Linked DNA regions of Homo sapiens: region 2 is linked to region 1. Evidence: fine-mapped expression QTL. Tissue or cell type: whole blood. Region 1 holds a variant in brackets; the other region holds the start of a gene. All regions are shown on one strand. Distances are between the middles of the regions.

Evidence for each region. PIP is the estimated chance that this variant, and not a neighbour inherited with it, causes the effect.
Region 2: FCN1 starts here. The variant in region 1 is fine-mapped to the expression of FCN1 in whole blood (TOPMed, PIP above 0.99).

What each region holds. Positions count from the first base shown.
Region 1 is chr9:134,889,595-134,897,772 of GRCh38, reverse strand. No RefSeq gene overlaps it. Among named protein-coding and RNA genes, the nearest start is that of FCN2, 13 kb to the right of the region's middle. RefSeq lists an enhancer at 7,468-7,968. The variant G/A (reference allele first, on the strand shown) is at 4,037.
Region 2 is chr9:134,914,204-134,922,381 of GRCh38, reverse strand. FCN1 (ficolin 1) reads left to right here and starts at 4,470. Exons shown (of 9, transcript NM_002003.5): 1 at 4,470-4,613; 2 at 5,921-6,034; 3 at 7,573-7,626; 4 at 7,962-7,997. The coding sequence starts at 4,511.

The DNA.
Region 1 (8,178 bases):
TCAGAAGGAAGTTTGGCCTTGTTTTCTAACCCATTATTACTGGAAGTAGAAGTCGGCACTTCCAGTTCTATGATCTAATTTTACACTTAGGTTTCCAGGTCACTAGAGCTTGCACATTGAGCATTTTTTTAAATGGCCATTTAATACTCACTGGAGGAAATGGACATCCTCTTATTGTTGAACACTTATAATCTATCCAGTGTTTCCTCTTATCGTTGAATACTGATATCCTAGCCAGTAATTAACACGTTTATGTACACGCTTTTTTCTCTTACGTTGCATTTTTTTTCCAAGAGTAAGTTCTCTGGTAAGCTTATTGATTCAAAGGGTACAAGCTTTTCTTTAAGTTCACGTAGTGTCATAAGTGACACTTATGAAACAGATTCAAGTCATAATACCACATCCCCATAAAACAATCTATCTAAGGCATGTAAATATTCACTGTAATTAATTTGATCCTTATTGCATGTTTTAAAAACATTTCAACTTGCTTTTGATTTGGATCTCTCTCACCTTTATTCTGAGGGATGGGTGGGGGGCCTGGGGACACATGGCCCACAGAAGGCTGGAGATGGAGTGGGAGGCAGGCTGACTTGTCATCTCTGTTTGATGTGCTGCTGTGTGACTTCCTACCACAGCTCATCAGCGGAGAAGAGGGAGGGCTCTAGGCATCACCCACTGAGATTTTGGTTCTAAAAGTCTGGGATGGGGCCCCTGAATCTGTATTTTTCAGAGCCTCCCCAGGTGGCTCCGACGGACAGTTAGGTTGAGGAACCACTAGCGTGCTAGTTTCAGAGAGCCGAGTAGAAGGTTTTAGTGCAAGCGAACAAAACCCGGAGATCTTCTGGCTCATCAGAGCAAACTCATATTAAAGAAGACAGCAATCCTGGAAGGGAAAAGAGAGATAAACGAATTAACGCAAATGGGTTTCAATTAGAATCCAGGCTCGCACAGCCCAGAGAAACAGGAGCTGGGAAGCCAGGTAGGTATCAGCCGAGCCAAGCATTCATCAGAGCCAAGCATGCTGGATACGTGATGGCCGCTCCAGGTTTTGTTTTTGTTTTTGGATGTGCGTTCTGTCCTTGACTCACATGTCTTGGCCATCAGCCCAGTAGAGGCCCTTCCCGACGGTACGGGGTAAACAACCTTGGACTTCCCGCCATACAGGTCACTTGGCCCACTTTGAAGATTAGCTTTTATGGAGAAGCAGAACTGCATTTGACAAGAGGAAGACCTTCCAATGTCAGTCACCACCATCCCAGGCCACACTGATCTGGTGGCTGCTCATGCCAGTAGTGAGCTTCTTGTGCCTGTGGGTCTGCTGGGAGCTACAGAGGCACTGACTTGAGTTCTGGGTGGTAAGATCACCCAGAGCAGCTGCCCCTTAATTTCCAGTTCTCAGATTTGATGATTCATGTTTCAACCCCAATGAAATTGTAGAACACCCATGCCGTCATGGAAGGCACAGGGCTCTGGGAGGGCCCGTTTGCTACCTTGGGACAGATGGACATATCCAGATTGTCCTTGGCTCTGCTGGCTTCCCGACTGGGACTTCTGCCACATCTTGGGGTGGGCGGGTGGGCTTCCAGCCTCCTGTAAAGCTGCAGGAATCAGATAACTGGCTGCCCCCCACCCATATGGCCTCTGGCTGATGAGTCACAGTGGCAATGAAAACCAAACTGAGTAGCTCAAGTGCAGCTAAAGAAATCAGTAGGAGGCCAACTTGGCACAAAGCCCAGAGTAAGTTTTTGAACCAGGAGGAGAATGCAGGTTTCTCCTCTCCTCGCCTGGGCCACCTCTTTGTAAAGATAAGAAACAGCAGCTATTTTAACAGGCAATCTTAATATCTCAGGGCTGATACACAATGCAAGTTTGTTTCTTGCCCAGGTCATAGTCCAGGGCAGGACATGGTGACAAGAATCACTCCTGCAGTGATTTAAAAAACCAGATTTCTTCTGGGCATCTTCTTTCCTGAGATAGAAATTTGGCTCATATTTCATTCAGATTTGATGCACTTCTTTGCCAATTTATCCCCATGCCTCCCTGTATCTCTCATCTTAAGGAAGTCTTTCTTAAAGTTTTCAGGCTTGGGCAGGAAGGATCTTTACTACAATTTTGAGTCACTCTGTTCAAAACAACGTATTCCATTGATCCTTCTTACCCTAGTGCTTTTAAAACCTCATCTCGTACTGTTTGGAGTCTAACAATGTTCAGGCATTTTCCAACTCTGCGAGATTTCCAATTCCTAGTCTCTTTAATCCATTTTTTTTCCTGCTTGCTAATTTCTTTTCTAAACTCTTCTTTCTCTTGTAACACCTAGTCAGACAGCCAATAAAAATAAACACACACTGAAAGTTCTGTTTTTCAAGTCGATCCCCTGGGGCTGGAAGAGACGTTCCAAGGAACTGCCTTCCAAGTTATTGAAGACAACATGTTCATCAAACAAAACTCTGCAGCCCTCCACCCACCATGTGGCTGCTAGGCCAGTGCCTTGGATTTTAGGTGTCTGTTGCCACGCTCTTGCACTTCTGGTACCAATCTCTGCATGAGTCAGTGTAAGCACAAATAGCTGCTATAACAAACAACCCCTCAGGATCACAGTGTCATCATTTCCCCTTGTGCTGCAATGCAGGGCCCATGCAGTGCAATGCAGGTTTACAGAGGGCTTTGGGGTTCCTCACCAGGACATGGGACAGAAGGTTTGGGGGGCCAGTTTAGAAAGGGGTCTGCATAATCTCTGTGAACATCCCATTGACTAAATCTCCATCATATAGTCTCATCTAACTGCAAGAGAGGTTTAGAAAAGCAGCCTTCTTGTACCCTCAGGAGGGGGAAAAACAGGCTTAGTGAACATATAACACTATGTCTGTCTCAATGCCACAAGGCATGCCTTTTATAAACAATAATGAGAAATTCTCCTGGAGTGATGGGAGCACGTACGGTAACGATGCAGCCATCTTCCCCAAGGGTTTGCCATTTGTGTATGGATTGGAATGTGAATTGTCTGTATTTGCACTTAAATCTGGACATCCACCTGATGCAGGGTAGGTGAGCCCCAAATTGGGGCTTAGCCCAGGAGGGTTCTTGGCTTCACCCAGGAAAGAATTTAAGGGTGAGCTGGTGGCATCAAACAGCAACTTCTATTGAAGCGGCCATGTACAGCAGTAGCCAAGTTACCCTCCTTGCAGAGCAGGGCTCCCCATAGGCAGTGTGCCCAGAGCAGCAGCTCAGAGGCAGTTCTGCAGACATACTTATACCCACTTTTAACTAAATGCAAATTAAAGGTGGTTTATACAGAAATTTCTAGGAAAAGAGTGGTGACTTCTGGGTCATCAAGTCATTGCCATGGAAAGGGGTGGTAACTTCTGGGTGTTGCCGTGGGCAATGGTAAACTGACATGGCACATGGGTGGGTGTGTCTTATTGAAAGCTGCTTTCACCTTGGCCCTGTTTCAGCTAGTCCTCATCTGATCCAGTGTCCAATCCCTGCCTCCAGAGTCACGTCCCGCCTCCTAACTCTCTCTCAGGTCAGACAGGCAGTGAGAGAGTAACTGGGGAGTTCTGGCTCCTATAAGGATTCAGGAGAACTTCAGGCTGAGCCTGGAAGAAAGAAACAGGACAGGACTCACTGGAGCCACTGCTTTGAGTCTTCCATTTAGGCCGTTTGTCTGATGCTATTGGAAAAGGCCTCGTTCTCCTGGTGAGAGGGCAGGCTCCTTCAGAGCAGGAATTCACTGCCTTGTACTCCAGAGAGGGCTGTGCACCCAGCAGATGTTCCATGGGGGTAGTGGGAGAAGGGCTTGGCTTAGTCTTTCTTCACTAAGTGATTAGTGTCATTCTAGTGAAGAAAAGAGAAGGTGAAGGTCAGTGGGGCAGGTGTCCTGAACTCTGTGTCTTCCTGACTTTGAGGATAGGGCATGCAGTGTTTTGGGGATTTTTTTTTTTTTTTTTTTTGAGATGGAGTCTTGCTCTGTCACCCAGGCTGGAGTGCAGTGGTGCGATCTCGGCTCACTGCAAGCTCCACCTCCCAGGTTCAC[G/A]CCATTCTTCTGCCTCAGCCTCCCAAGTAGCTGGGACTACAGGCACCCGCCACCACACCCAGCTAATTTTTGTGTGTATTTTTTTAGTAGAGACGGGGTTTCACCGTGTTAGCCAGGATGGTCTCGATCTCCTGACCTTGTGATCTACCCTCCTCGGCCTCCCAAAGTGCTGGGATTACAGGCATGAGCCACTGTGCCCAGTGGTTTTGGGGATTTTTTACCTGTTGCATCTGACTGGGGCCACTGAGACTCCTCTTAGGACAACCGACCATCCTGGTGGCTAGGGCTTTTCCAGGAGATGGATGCTCAGTGCTAAAACTGGGCAGGCCCAGGCTCACTGGCACAAGTTGGCCACCCCACTCTTTCTGACTACAGGCTACTGGGAGAGGAAAGAAGCCTAGGACGCAGAGGAATAAAGGGACAAGAACAGACACCCAGAGAGGCTGGGGACAAAGAGATGCGAGGGGCCCTGAGTGCCCAGGAGCCTGGAACAGTGATGTCCTCCTAGCGTGGGGTCACCTCCCAAAATGCACAGTTCATGCTCTGCAGCAGGCCATGTTTTCTGCCTGTTACTCCCTGCTTGCCTTCGGCCACTTCCCAGAATGCTCTTTCCAGCTCTCCACTCCCATTCCCCAGCAGTGTTTCCATCTTGGTTGCTGTAAAGTGCAAAACTCAGAACCCAGGGCACAGGTGGGGAGTGACCTATGCAGAGGCGAGTGTGGCATCTTCCTTGTTCTAGATGTCAGGCCTTTGTGAATGCAGCCTAAAACCACATCCTACCTTTGGTGAGCAACATTACGCTCTGCCTAGAGCCAGCTGAGCCTGGAATCCACAAGACGGCCCTTTCCCAGTTCTTTTTTTTATAAATTGCACTTAAGGCATGGAGTCATTGGAAGAACTCAGAAACCCATGGTGAGGGGTAGGGAAGGGGCAGGGGACACGGGGGTTTGGGTCAATGGAGGCAAGAACACCTGGTTTCAGGGTTTGGGTGCCTATCAGTCACAGCTCCCAACCATCAGCTTATTGGAGGGAGACAGTGTCCCTCAGGCCAGGAGAGAGAGAAGAGAGCCAGTTCTCCCTCAAGCAGATTCTGAAGGCAATAAAGGCAGACAGCCTGGCCTCTGCTCTGACCCCAGGGAGCCCGCCCTGGCTAGTGTGGGCAGCAGGTGAGGGAGGCCTTTGCTGGAGCCTGGCCCACAGCAGGTGGCTCCATCCTCCTCTCCCAGGTCTGGATACACAACAGAGTCAATCCCTGCCCGCCACCCCTATGCCAAGGCACAGCTCCCAACACCCTCAACAGAACAGCCTGGACTCTCAGCCCAAGGAGACAGGCAGGTGACAGGAGGTGTAGGGGCAGGCCAGGCAGGGCTAGGCAGGGCTGGAGCCCACAACAAAGACCTATAGCCAAGGGCTCCTGCGCCCAGGGAAAGGCCCGAACAGAAGGGGAGGCCTCACGGGCAAGGGCTGTCAGCTGGGCAGGGGGTGCCCTAGGAGGAGGACTGGCAGCTGGGCCGGGTGTGTGATGCTGTGCTACGCTTCCTGGCCCTTCAGCACATTGCAAACCCAGTGTGGGAGCACATTCTTCTTACTCCCCGGGGCCTTCAAATCCACCCTGCCATCCCATGTTACACGAGAAGGAAGATTCAGAGAGGTCAGGTCACAGATCAAGGCCACACAGCCCAGGTCTGTGAGGGCAAAATGCCACTGCACTTCACAGCTGAAATGAAGAGACTTTGCTTTTGAAGGAGGCAAGTTCTACTCTGAGACCCTGCCTGGGAGCACAAGCCACACATAGTGCCACGTGGCCAATGTCTCCATAAACACGTACAGGCAGCTGAACAGGACCAGGGACCAAAGGGCCCCAGGCAGGGCCACTGACACCAAGGCCAGGAGGCCTCACAGAGCCCCATGCTCGGTCAGTTCCTCCTGAAGACTGGACAGGAAGAGGGGGTGGGGATCAGGCTGCAGCAAATCCATCGCCCAAGGGCTGAGAGCCCAAGGGCAGGATGGAAGGGTCCTAGGGTTCCACAGAGCACCCGCTACTGCTCGGAAGGCAGAGCACAGGGAAGACAAAACCAGAAAGCACATCAGATTCTGGAGAGGTGAAGGCGAGTGAGAATGAGGTCTGGAAAAGGTGTAGCAGGGGCAGGGTGGAGAATGAGGATCCCAGGGAAGGGTCAAGTTGTGCTCCCATTCCCAGAGAGCATCACACCTTCATGGGGAGAGTCCTCAGAGGTGGAGGACTGCCCTGGGCCTAGATTTGTTAAATGGCCCTCTCTCCTGCAGAGGAGCTTTCTGAGTACACTGCTTCACCTTCCTGATACATGGGGTTCCAGCCCTGCAGGGCGGGCTCCTTTCTCATCCTAAGGACGGGGACTTCCTGATGTTGCAACCACCCAGTGGGTTCAGCTTGCCTGCTGCCCAGACAGAGCCAATTTATCAAGACAGGAGAATTGCAATCGAGAAAGAGTAATTTACGCAGAGCCGCCGTGCAGGATACTGGACTAGAGTTTCATTATTACCAAATCAGTCTACCCGAGCATTCAGGGATCAGAGTGTTTAAGGACAACTTGGTGAGTTGGGGGGAAGCGAATGAGCCAGGAGTGCTGATTGGTCAGGGTTGGGGGGAAGCCAAAGAGCTGGACATACTGATTGGTCAGAGATGAAATCACAGGGAGTCAGAATTGTCTTCTTGCACTGAGTCAGTTCCTAGGTGGGGGCCACAAGATCAGACGAGCCAGTTTATTGAGCTGGGTGGTGCCAGCTGATCCATCAAGTGCAAGGTCTGCAAAATATCCCAAGTACTGACTTCAGGAGCAGTTGAGAGAGGGTCAGAATCGTGTAGCCTTCAGCTGCATGACTCCTAAACCATAATTTCTAATCTTGTGGCTAATTTGTCCTACAAAAGGAGTCTAGTCCTCAGGCAAGAAGGAGGTTTTGGGAAAGGGCTATTATCATCTTTGTTTTGAACTATAAACTAAGTTCCTCCCAAAGTTAGTTCAGCCTATGCCTAGGAATGAACAAGCACAGCTTGGAGGTTAGAAGCAAGATGGAGTTGGTTAAGTCAGATCTCTTTCATTGTCTCAGTCATAATTTTACAGTGGCGGTTTCAATGTCAGTTACTCCAGCCAAAGCAAGGCTTCACAGCTTTGGGGAAAATAAGCATCCTTATCCAGACCCCAAGAGAGGGTTCTTGGACCTCTCACAAGAAAGCATTTGGGGCGAGTTCATAAAGTAAAAGCCACTTTATTAAAGAAGTAAAGAAACAAAAGAATGACTACTCCATAGGCAGAGAAGCTCTGAGGACTGCTAACTGGCTATTTTTATACTTATTTCTTGATTACATACTAAACAAGGGGTGGATCTTTCATGAGTTTTCCAAGAAAGGGGCAGGGAACTGAGGGTCCCTCCCTTTTTTAGACCATACATAGTAAGTTCCGGAAGTTGCCATGGTGTTTGCAAACTGTCGTGGGAGTGTCCTTCAACATGCTAACGCATTATAATTAGCATATAGTGAGCAGTGAGGACGACCAGAAGTCACTTTTGTCACTGTCTTGGTTTTGGTGGGATTTGGCCGTCTTCTTTACCGCATCCTGACCTGTATTTTGTGATACCCGTCCTGCCAACCTCCTATGACTAAGAATGCCTAACCTCCTGGGACTGCAGCACAGCAGGCCTCAGCCTCATTTCACCCAGCCCCTATTCAAGATGGAGTCTGGCTTGAATGCCTCTGTCACCCCCAGCCTGGCCACAGAAACCACAGTTACAGTTAAGAATCTAGGGTCTAGTGGGCACAGGCCCCCTGCCAGCTGCTGCCCCTTCTTCCAGCCCTCCCGACAGCAGAGGCCTGAGACCTCTGAAGAGCAGGAAGGGAGGCAGCGGTCCCCAGCAGAGGGACAGGGACAGCCCAGCCCTGGGGACACTCTTGGCCTTGGCCTAGGCTCCAACCTGGCTCAGCCCCCTGCTCTGGAGGGGAGCCAGACACCCTGAGGCAGCACTGGTGGCCTGAAGGAGCCAAGTCTTTCAGGGGATGGGAGAAGCAGGCACCTGTGGCTCCCAGGTGCCCACCCAGTACCAGCTGGTCCTACAGAGCCCTTCCGATGCCTGCCTCAGTTACACCTCCCAGAGGCCCCGCAGGTGCA
Region 2 (8,178 bases), 25 kb before region 1:
ACTAAACCTGCATCACCCAATGAAGCCAAAACCCATCTCCAGCCCCCCGTGCCCCTTCCAGGCCTAAGGGCTCCCCCTCCTAAGGGAGCGGTCGTCTCACTGGCCCCTGCTAAGGGAGCGGTCATCTCACTGGCATGGTCTGGGCCTTTTTCTCCACGTTGCCACCGAGCATGCATTCCTTCACACTGCTGTTCAGTTTTGCCCACTTTCAAACTCTGTACAGATGCAAATGAACAGTTCGCATGCCTTAGTGCTGGCGCCCTGGATGCTCCGTGTGCTTGCGGATTTCAACAAAGCTTTTGCGTGAAGCTGGAATCCGATCATTTTATGGGTCTACAGGATGCTCCAGTATGAACGAACCTCAGCTGACGGCCCCATTCTGCTGCGGATGGACGTTTGGGTTGTTTCCGGCGTGGGGCTGGACATTTTCACACGTGTCTTCTTTCCAGCTGGGCACACCTCTCTGTTGAGTAGAACTGAGCTGAACATCGCTGGTTATGGAATATGCTGGTCGTAGGGAATTGTTGGGAATACTGCCAGTTTTCCGAAGTGCTTGTACCAAGGTTTCTGACACTTCTTCACCAAAACCTTGCAGAGTTGGCTGTTTAGAAAAATTTTAGTGTCTGCAGTCATCTCATGAGATTTAAGTTTTCATTTCTTGGATTAGTTATGAAGTTGAGCATGTTTTCATACTTCCATCATCTATTAAATATTATCTTTTATAAGCGTTTGTTGAAGTCACTTTCCCACTTTCTACAACATCGTTGATTTACAGAAACCCTTTATTCTGGATACAAGCCTTTTGTCACTTCTGTGTGTTGAAACCTCTCTTCCCTCACCCTGGCTCGTCTTTTCCCTCCCACGGTGGTGTATTTTGAAAAAGAAATAATACTATTTTCATGATCAATTTTTCCACTTGTCCTTTATGGTTTGTGGTTTTCCATCTTATTTAAAATAACTGCAAGGCTATTGGAGATCTTATAATATGATCTAAAACTGCTGTTTTCCCTCTCACATTTGGGTCTACCCTTCTCCTGATGTGGATTTTTTTTTCATCTGATAAAAGTCAAGTGTAACTTCTTGTTTTTCCATATGACTCTCCAGTAGTTTGTGCCACTCATTGAAAGTTTATTCTTTCACTATTGCTCTTTAGAGCCACCATGTCATAAATCTAGGGTCCGTATGTGCCTGGATTTGCTTCTGCACTCCCTACTCACTTCCCTAGGTTTGCTGTGTACGCCTAAGCCAGCCCCACACTGTCTCCATCACTATCGCTTGATAATGACTGCTGGTGTCACTTCAAGCAACTCACCCTTGTTTTTTCTTGCTCAAGAATAGCATGGCTATCAGCCTCTTGCCTTTATATAAATTTTATTTATTTATTTATTTATTTGTTTATTTATTTAGACAGAGTTTCACTCTGTTGCCCAGGCTGGAGTGCAGTGGTGCAATCTCGGCTCACTGCAACCTCCACCTCCCGGGTTCAAGCAATTCTCCCACCTCAGCCTCCTGAGTAGCTGGGACTACAGGCATGTACCACCACACCCTGCTAAATATATATATTATATATTTTTTGAGATGGAATCTCACTCTGTCGTCCAGGCTGGAGTACAGTGGCTCGATCTTGGCTCACTGCAACCTCCGCCTCCTGGGTTCAAGCAATTCTCCTGTCTCAGCCTCCTAAGTAGCTGGGTTTACAGGTGCCCACCATCATGCCTAGCTAATTTTTGTATTTTTAGTAGAGACAGGGTTTTACCATGTTGGCCAGGCTGGTCTTGAATTCCTGACCTCAAGTAATCTACCTGTCTCAGCCTCCTAAAGTGATGGGATTACAGGTGTGAGCCACTGCACCCGGCCCTTTATATAAATTTTAAATTCACCATGTCAATTGTCACAGAAAATGGTAGTTTAATTGATAATACAGTGGATATTTAGATAAATTAAGAGAAGATGAATGTTTTTCCTATATTTGGTATTCTAATCCACACATATAGAATATCCTTCTAATTATTTTAATCTTCTTTTAGGTCTTTCTGTTCCTATTTGATAGTTTTGTACACAGAAGACCAGCATGGATGTTGTTAGACTTATTCACAGTTATTTGAATTTGGTGTTGCTGATGCAAATTTTTTAAATTTCATTTTTAAATTCTTTGAGGCTAGTTTTTAGAAGCACAATTGATTTTTGCTAAACTTTTTATTCTGCTAGTTTATCTGTAGAAACTCTAGAATTTTCTACATCCTCAATCATGTCTTCTGAAAATAACAACTTTGTGTCTGCCTTTCCAATCTTTTTATGGTTTTGTTCTCTTGCCTACTGCACTGGACAGTGACATGCAATACAATGTTGACCACAGTGGTGATGACAAGCATCCTTATTTGTTCTCAGTCTCTGAGGATGGTTTTCCATTTTTCCTGTTAATTATGTTGTAACTTCTGTATCCACAGCTTCCAAAGACCTCTTTCTATATTCTGTTGTTTCTGTTGGTCCTTATACACATTGTCTTTTATTCCCATGAGCCTGGTTATCGTTGATTGTGTTTTAACATTTCATTTGAAAAAAATAAAACACTTTGCAGAAATAATGACCTGGGATGATGTCATTCTCCTTCAGAGAAGATTTTTGTTTCTTTCAGCAAGGAGCCTGGGGGCATGAGCAATAATTCCAGGAGTTGAGATTCCTTTCCTGGGACACTTAGATGTCTCAAAACCAGTTTGCAGCCCTTGTGAATGTTGGTTGTTGCTCACTCATCCTATTGCTAGGGTGCAGCCCTTCTGAAAGCCAACCCCAAACCCATACCTTTGGCAGGCCGTAGGCCCCAGTCTTTGACCTTCAGCTCTGCAAGATGGTGAAATCACTGCCCAACTTCTCACCTCTCTTTTGGAGATTGGCAAATCCCTGTGCAAAAAGAGGTCCCCACTACTAGTTTCACTTCTCTAAGATTTCTGTGGCTCCTGAGAGCTTGGCAAAGTAATCCTTTACTACATAGCTAGCTTGACGGTGCCTTCGAGCAAATCTCTTTTTAAAGGTTTTGTCTGTTTGTCCTTAATAGGATGCCCCCAAATACCTAAACTGCCATTGCCAGGAATCAAATGACTTTTGTTGATCCAATGTTAAGATATTTTAACTTGCCAGAATCTTGCATTCTTTCATACTCTTGGGAACATTGACTTGATATCTGAAGGTGGTGTTGACTTCTCACCTGAAATAAACCTATTGATGTTGCAAGGAAGAGGAGGTCCCCTCACACCCAGGGGGCAGCTGGCAAATGGAATTGAGGGGCACAGACCTGCTGGCTTTCTCCCTGTTCTGACCCAATCCCAGGTGAGTGCTGCTCCTGAATTGGATCCTCTCCAAGAAAGGAGGCCGCACCACTGACACCCAGACCTCTCCCGCCTGGGCCAGTAGCTCAGGGACACTAAGCGGTGTCTGAGGCAATGAAGCCTCCTGCCGTTGTCTCTCAACAGGCTGGAGCCAACACACACAAACACACACAGTCGAGAGTCGTTGTGGTGCCCAGAGAGCCTGGACACAAGGTCCTGTGTCTCCTGGATCCCCCACCCCTGGGCCGCCCCTCCACTTCTCTCCCACCTGGGGAGCCCTTGAGTTTGGAAACCCAGTCTACACACGCTGGCTCAGAGAAGTTGCAAACCACAAAACAACACCTCTCCCTGCTCCTTAGTCCTGCTACCATCTGACTCTCGTTAGTGACTATTTCTATACGTTCTAAAAATCCCGCACAAAGTGTCCACAGCGTGGCCTGGCTAAGCATGATTCACAGCACGAGATGCGGAGTAGGAACATGGCCTCAGGGATTTGGGGGAACAAGAGGCATCCCCACCTTCAGGTGAAATGAGCAATCCCAGTGATCTACAAGGCGTTAGACAGAATTGAGTCCAATGCCTGGCTCTTACTAGTGGAGTGACTTCAATTTCTCCAGCTGTAACTTTCAAATAATTTACTCCACCGAATGGGGCTGGTGCAAGATGATATGATGGAAATAGTATTTGGGACATAACAAGTGCTCAACATTTTTTTCCTCTCCATCCATGATAAGTGCCTGATGACGGACAAACCCTGAATTTTCTGGGAACAGATGAGGCAAGGAAGCGTCTTCAGCAAAACCTTCCTTATCCCCCAAGGTTAAGGTCAAGGTTTCCGAGTATTGCTTGGGGACAGCTGGGGAATGGAAAGGGGGTGTGGGGGCTGTGTTCTCCTTAAGCCACAAGCAAAGCCGATGCTTTCCAGCAGAGGAGTCTCAGGAGCTCTCTGGACTGGGAGCAGGGTGTCTTTGCTGGGGGAAGAGAGCCCAATGGGGTGGGCATCTTGCTGGAGCCTAGTGGAAGGAAACATCCTTTGAGATGACCTCATACCTCCTGTTGGTGCAACTAAGCAGCCCATAGGAAGTGGGTGTCCCCCAGGGAGTTGAGAAACTGTGGCACAAGGCGAGAGCTGGTTTCCTCTGCCCTGTTAGAGCTGGGGGACTCTTCAGAGTCAAAGGCCAGAGAGCATGGAGCTGAGTGGAGCCACCATGGCCCGGGGGCTCGCTGTCCTGCTAGTCTTGTTCCTGCATATCAAGAACCTGCCTGCCCAGGCTGCGGACACATGTCCAGGTGAGACAGACCTGGGTTTTCTGGTCCCTAAAAGCTGGTAACAACCCCACTCACTGACACTCGGGTGTCCCAGGCAAAACCTTTTATGCACATCTTCCTGTGAAGATGCCCAACAGATCTGTTTTATCCTCAGGCAAGGACATGGAGGCTCAGGGCAGCTGAGGCATTGCCCAGGGTCATGGAGGGATAGGGGAGGGATGTCACCAGGTCTGTCTGCCTCGAAAGCCCAGGATTTGCCCATTGGAGCTTCATAGGTGGGTCTGGAATCTGTCACTGAGAAGGAAGAAAATACTGTTGACTTTATCTTCTTACGGGCTTACCAGGGAGGCACTCTAAGACCCTCTAATACGGTGGCTGCCACACGGACTTGGGGGGTTTGTTAAAAAGGCAGATTTCTGGCTCTCCTCCAAGAGAGTCGGAATCAGTTGATAGGGACAAGGGTTTGAACGGTGGTAAGGTGTTTCCCTCACTGATTCAGGAGCAGGTGGTTCTGTGACGCTCAGCAAGAGACTGCTCCTAAGGACGGCCTGGTGCCCCTGGCTGATAACATATTTATGAAGGAAACATAAATAGTAAATTACAGCCTGCTCTAGTGGAAGGAGGACTGGAAACACAGAAAGGAAATACCCCAAAAATGGCAGTGCCATGTCTCCGGTGAGAGCACTGCTCCGTTCCATGGTCTCTAAGAGCGCCCTTAGCAGGGCGTGTAGATTTTGTAATGAACAAAATGAAAAATATTTTTTCAAAGAAGTAAACAACTTTGGTTTGGCTGCAGCTGTGCCACACCTGGCTCTGTGTCCTTGGACCCCACACTGCCCCTCTCCAGAGGACCTAGAAAGCCCCTTCCAGCCCAGTAATTCTACAACCACATTCCCAAGGTCTGGGAGGGAAAATGCTTTGTCAGCCCCAATTCCCCAAGTTTCTTAGAAATATTGATTGTCATTAGTTATTGAAAGTGCCCGCTGTTTATTAAGCTCTTTCTAAATGCCATAAATTACAATAAGAGATTTAAAATGCACATTCTTTAACCAAATCCTGGCCGCAACCTTGTTATTATCCCCGCTTGGCAGCCCAGGGCACAAAGCTCAGAGGAGTTAAGTTACTTGCTGCAGGACACACAGCACTGAGGAGATGGGGCTCCCCTAGGTCGGGGTGGCCTCCAAAGCCAGAGCTCTGCCCCCCATCACATCTCCGCCTCACCAGTGCCTGAGGGGTGAGGACAGACCAAGGCCCCAGCAGAGCAGAAAACCTCACTTCCCAGCCACTGTTGGGCCAGGCACTGAGTGGGCACCTGTGTTTCTCTGCAGAGGTGAAGGTGGTGGGCCTGGAGGGCTCTGACAAGCTCACCATTCTCCGAGGCTGCCCGGGGCTGCCCGGGGCCCCAGGGCCAAAGGGAGAGGCAGGTGTCATTGGAGAGAGAGGTAGGTGCGGGCCGGGTGGGGAGGCCAGGCATGGCAGGGGCACTGGCTCTTGCTCTTTATGAAACTGGATGCAGAGTTGGGCAACACCCCCACCGTGGTTCCTAGATCAAGAGCCTGGGTCAGGCCCCTGCTAGAGCCAGGAACAGAGCTGACTCCCAGGGCCCAACAGGGTTCTGAAATGGAGGGAGGGTCTTTCCTAACTATTTCATGAGCTCACATTTGGACATGCTTCTGTAGCTCTGTCTCCTAGTCCTTGATCCAATACCAGCTTTGCTCAGCTACTGGCACGACTTCTAAGCTCTGTGTCCCTCCACCTTCTCACCTGAAAATTGAGGTGACCGCTTTCTTCTGCACCTGCCTCATATGGGAAAACTGAGACTCAAAGAGGTCACAGGCTTTCCTACTTGACAAACCAGTAAGGAGTGGGGCTGGGACTTGGACTGGTCTACTTCAGGGCACAGAGGGCACCCGAATCCTGAGCCCTGAGCTCTGCATGTGGATTTGCAGGGAACATGGGAGAATGAACAGCAGGCACCTGCCTTGGGTGGTTTTGGGTCCCCCTAAGCATGGCATAAGGCAGACGTGCACAAAAACTCAGAAAGGGCGCTGCCTTAGGGGGTGAGCTCCCCATGCCTGGACGCATTCAAGATGATGCCTGCGGAGCACTTGGTGGGGATGTCCCAGTGTAGATGGGACAAGCTCAAATGTCCCTATGACTTGGACTTTCACTGACGTGTCTAGGCTTCCGTGTGGGTGTCCGGGGCCAGGTCCTCTGTGCCCACTCCGCAGGCTGGACCTGAGAGTGCGGTCCCGATCCCCTGCTGAGGGAACACTGGGGAGGAAGACCTTCCCTGGCAGGAGAAGAATCAAGTCTGGCTCAGACTTCCCTTGAACCAGGCTTCTACCAGTGGGCATGGCTGGCTAATATACCCTAAAGCAAGAACCAGCCCCCATACACTCTCCCCAGCCACTGGGGTCAGCGAGCGGGCTGGGGGCTGCCTCTTGGCTGGCATCGGGGACGGGAGGGTCACCTTTCTGGCCAGAACCACGTGGAGCGCTGTGTGACACCCCAGGAGCTCAGGCGCACGGTGGAACCGGATCCTCCCTGGCAGCAGCGGCTGCACGTGGCGCCCACCCTCTCCGTGTGGGGACGTGGTAGGATGAGGCTCTCTGAGGACGCATTCTTTGTTCCAGAACCTGGTCCCTTGCTAGGCAGTAGAGCTCTGTGTGGGTGACTTGGGTCCAGGCTTATGGTCAACAGAGTGTGAAACCCAGGTTGCTCCCAAGGCACAAACAGGAGCAAGGTGCACCTTGCCTTGAGCCCAAGGTGGGGTGCAGGCCCCTCCCTCAATCCCTCACCTCCATCTGCAGTCACCCCCAGGCTAAATCCATGGCTAGCAATTCTGAGAGCTCCTGGAACCAGAAGGGGTTCAAGGCAGAGTGGGGGAGGGTCAGGACTTAACCACTTGGGGCAAAGATTTCCAGGGAGAATTGTTTAGGTTGCATTTTTCTCAGTGATATGTCTTTGGAATTTTCAGGAGAACGCGGTCTCCCTGGAGCCCCTGGAAAGGCAGGACCAGTGGGGCCCAAAGGTAACCAGGGGACAGACAGCGAGGAGGCCTTGAGCAGGGACCTTGGAGCTGTCTGTAATGAAATGAGGGAGGGAGAGACAGAGACAGAGACACAGACACAGACACAGAGAGACACGGCAACAGAGAGAGAAAGACAGTGGCAGGCGGACAGGGACCCTGGGATATTCCAGGCCTCGGGGCCCCTCCCCACCATTGAGACCTGGGCGTTGTGATGCCTTAGTGAGCCTGCAGGGCTGGGGAGATGCAGTGTCCAGGCCGGGAGCCCACTCTGGACCAGCCTTTCCGTGGCCCACACATCTGGGGTCAAAAGCTCATTATCCTGCCTCTTCCTCCAGGAGACCGAGGAGAGAAGGGGATGCGTGGAGAGAAAGGTGAGCCACCCGTGGGCCCAGGCAGTTGTCTCTGCAGGCTTTGTCCAGGGGAGGGGTCTCAGAGGCCTCAGTCCGCCTGCCCACCGCCCACGTCCCTGTCAATCCAGGCTGTGGGCAGGGAGGGGTGGAAGGAGTCCAGCGGGCTTTGTTGTCAGAATCCACGAGGGCTCAAACCCTGGTG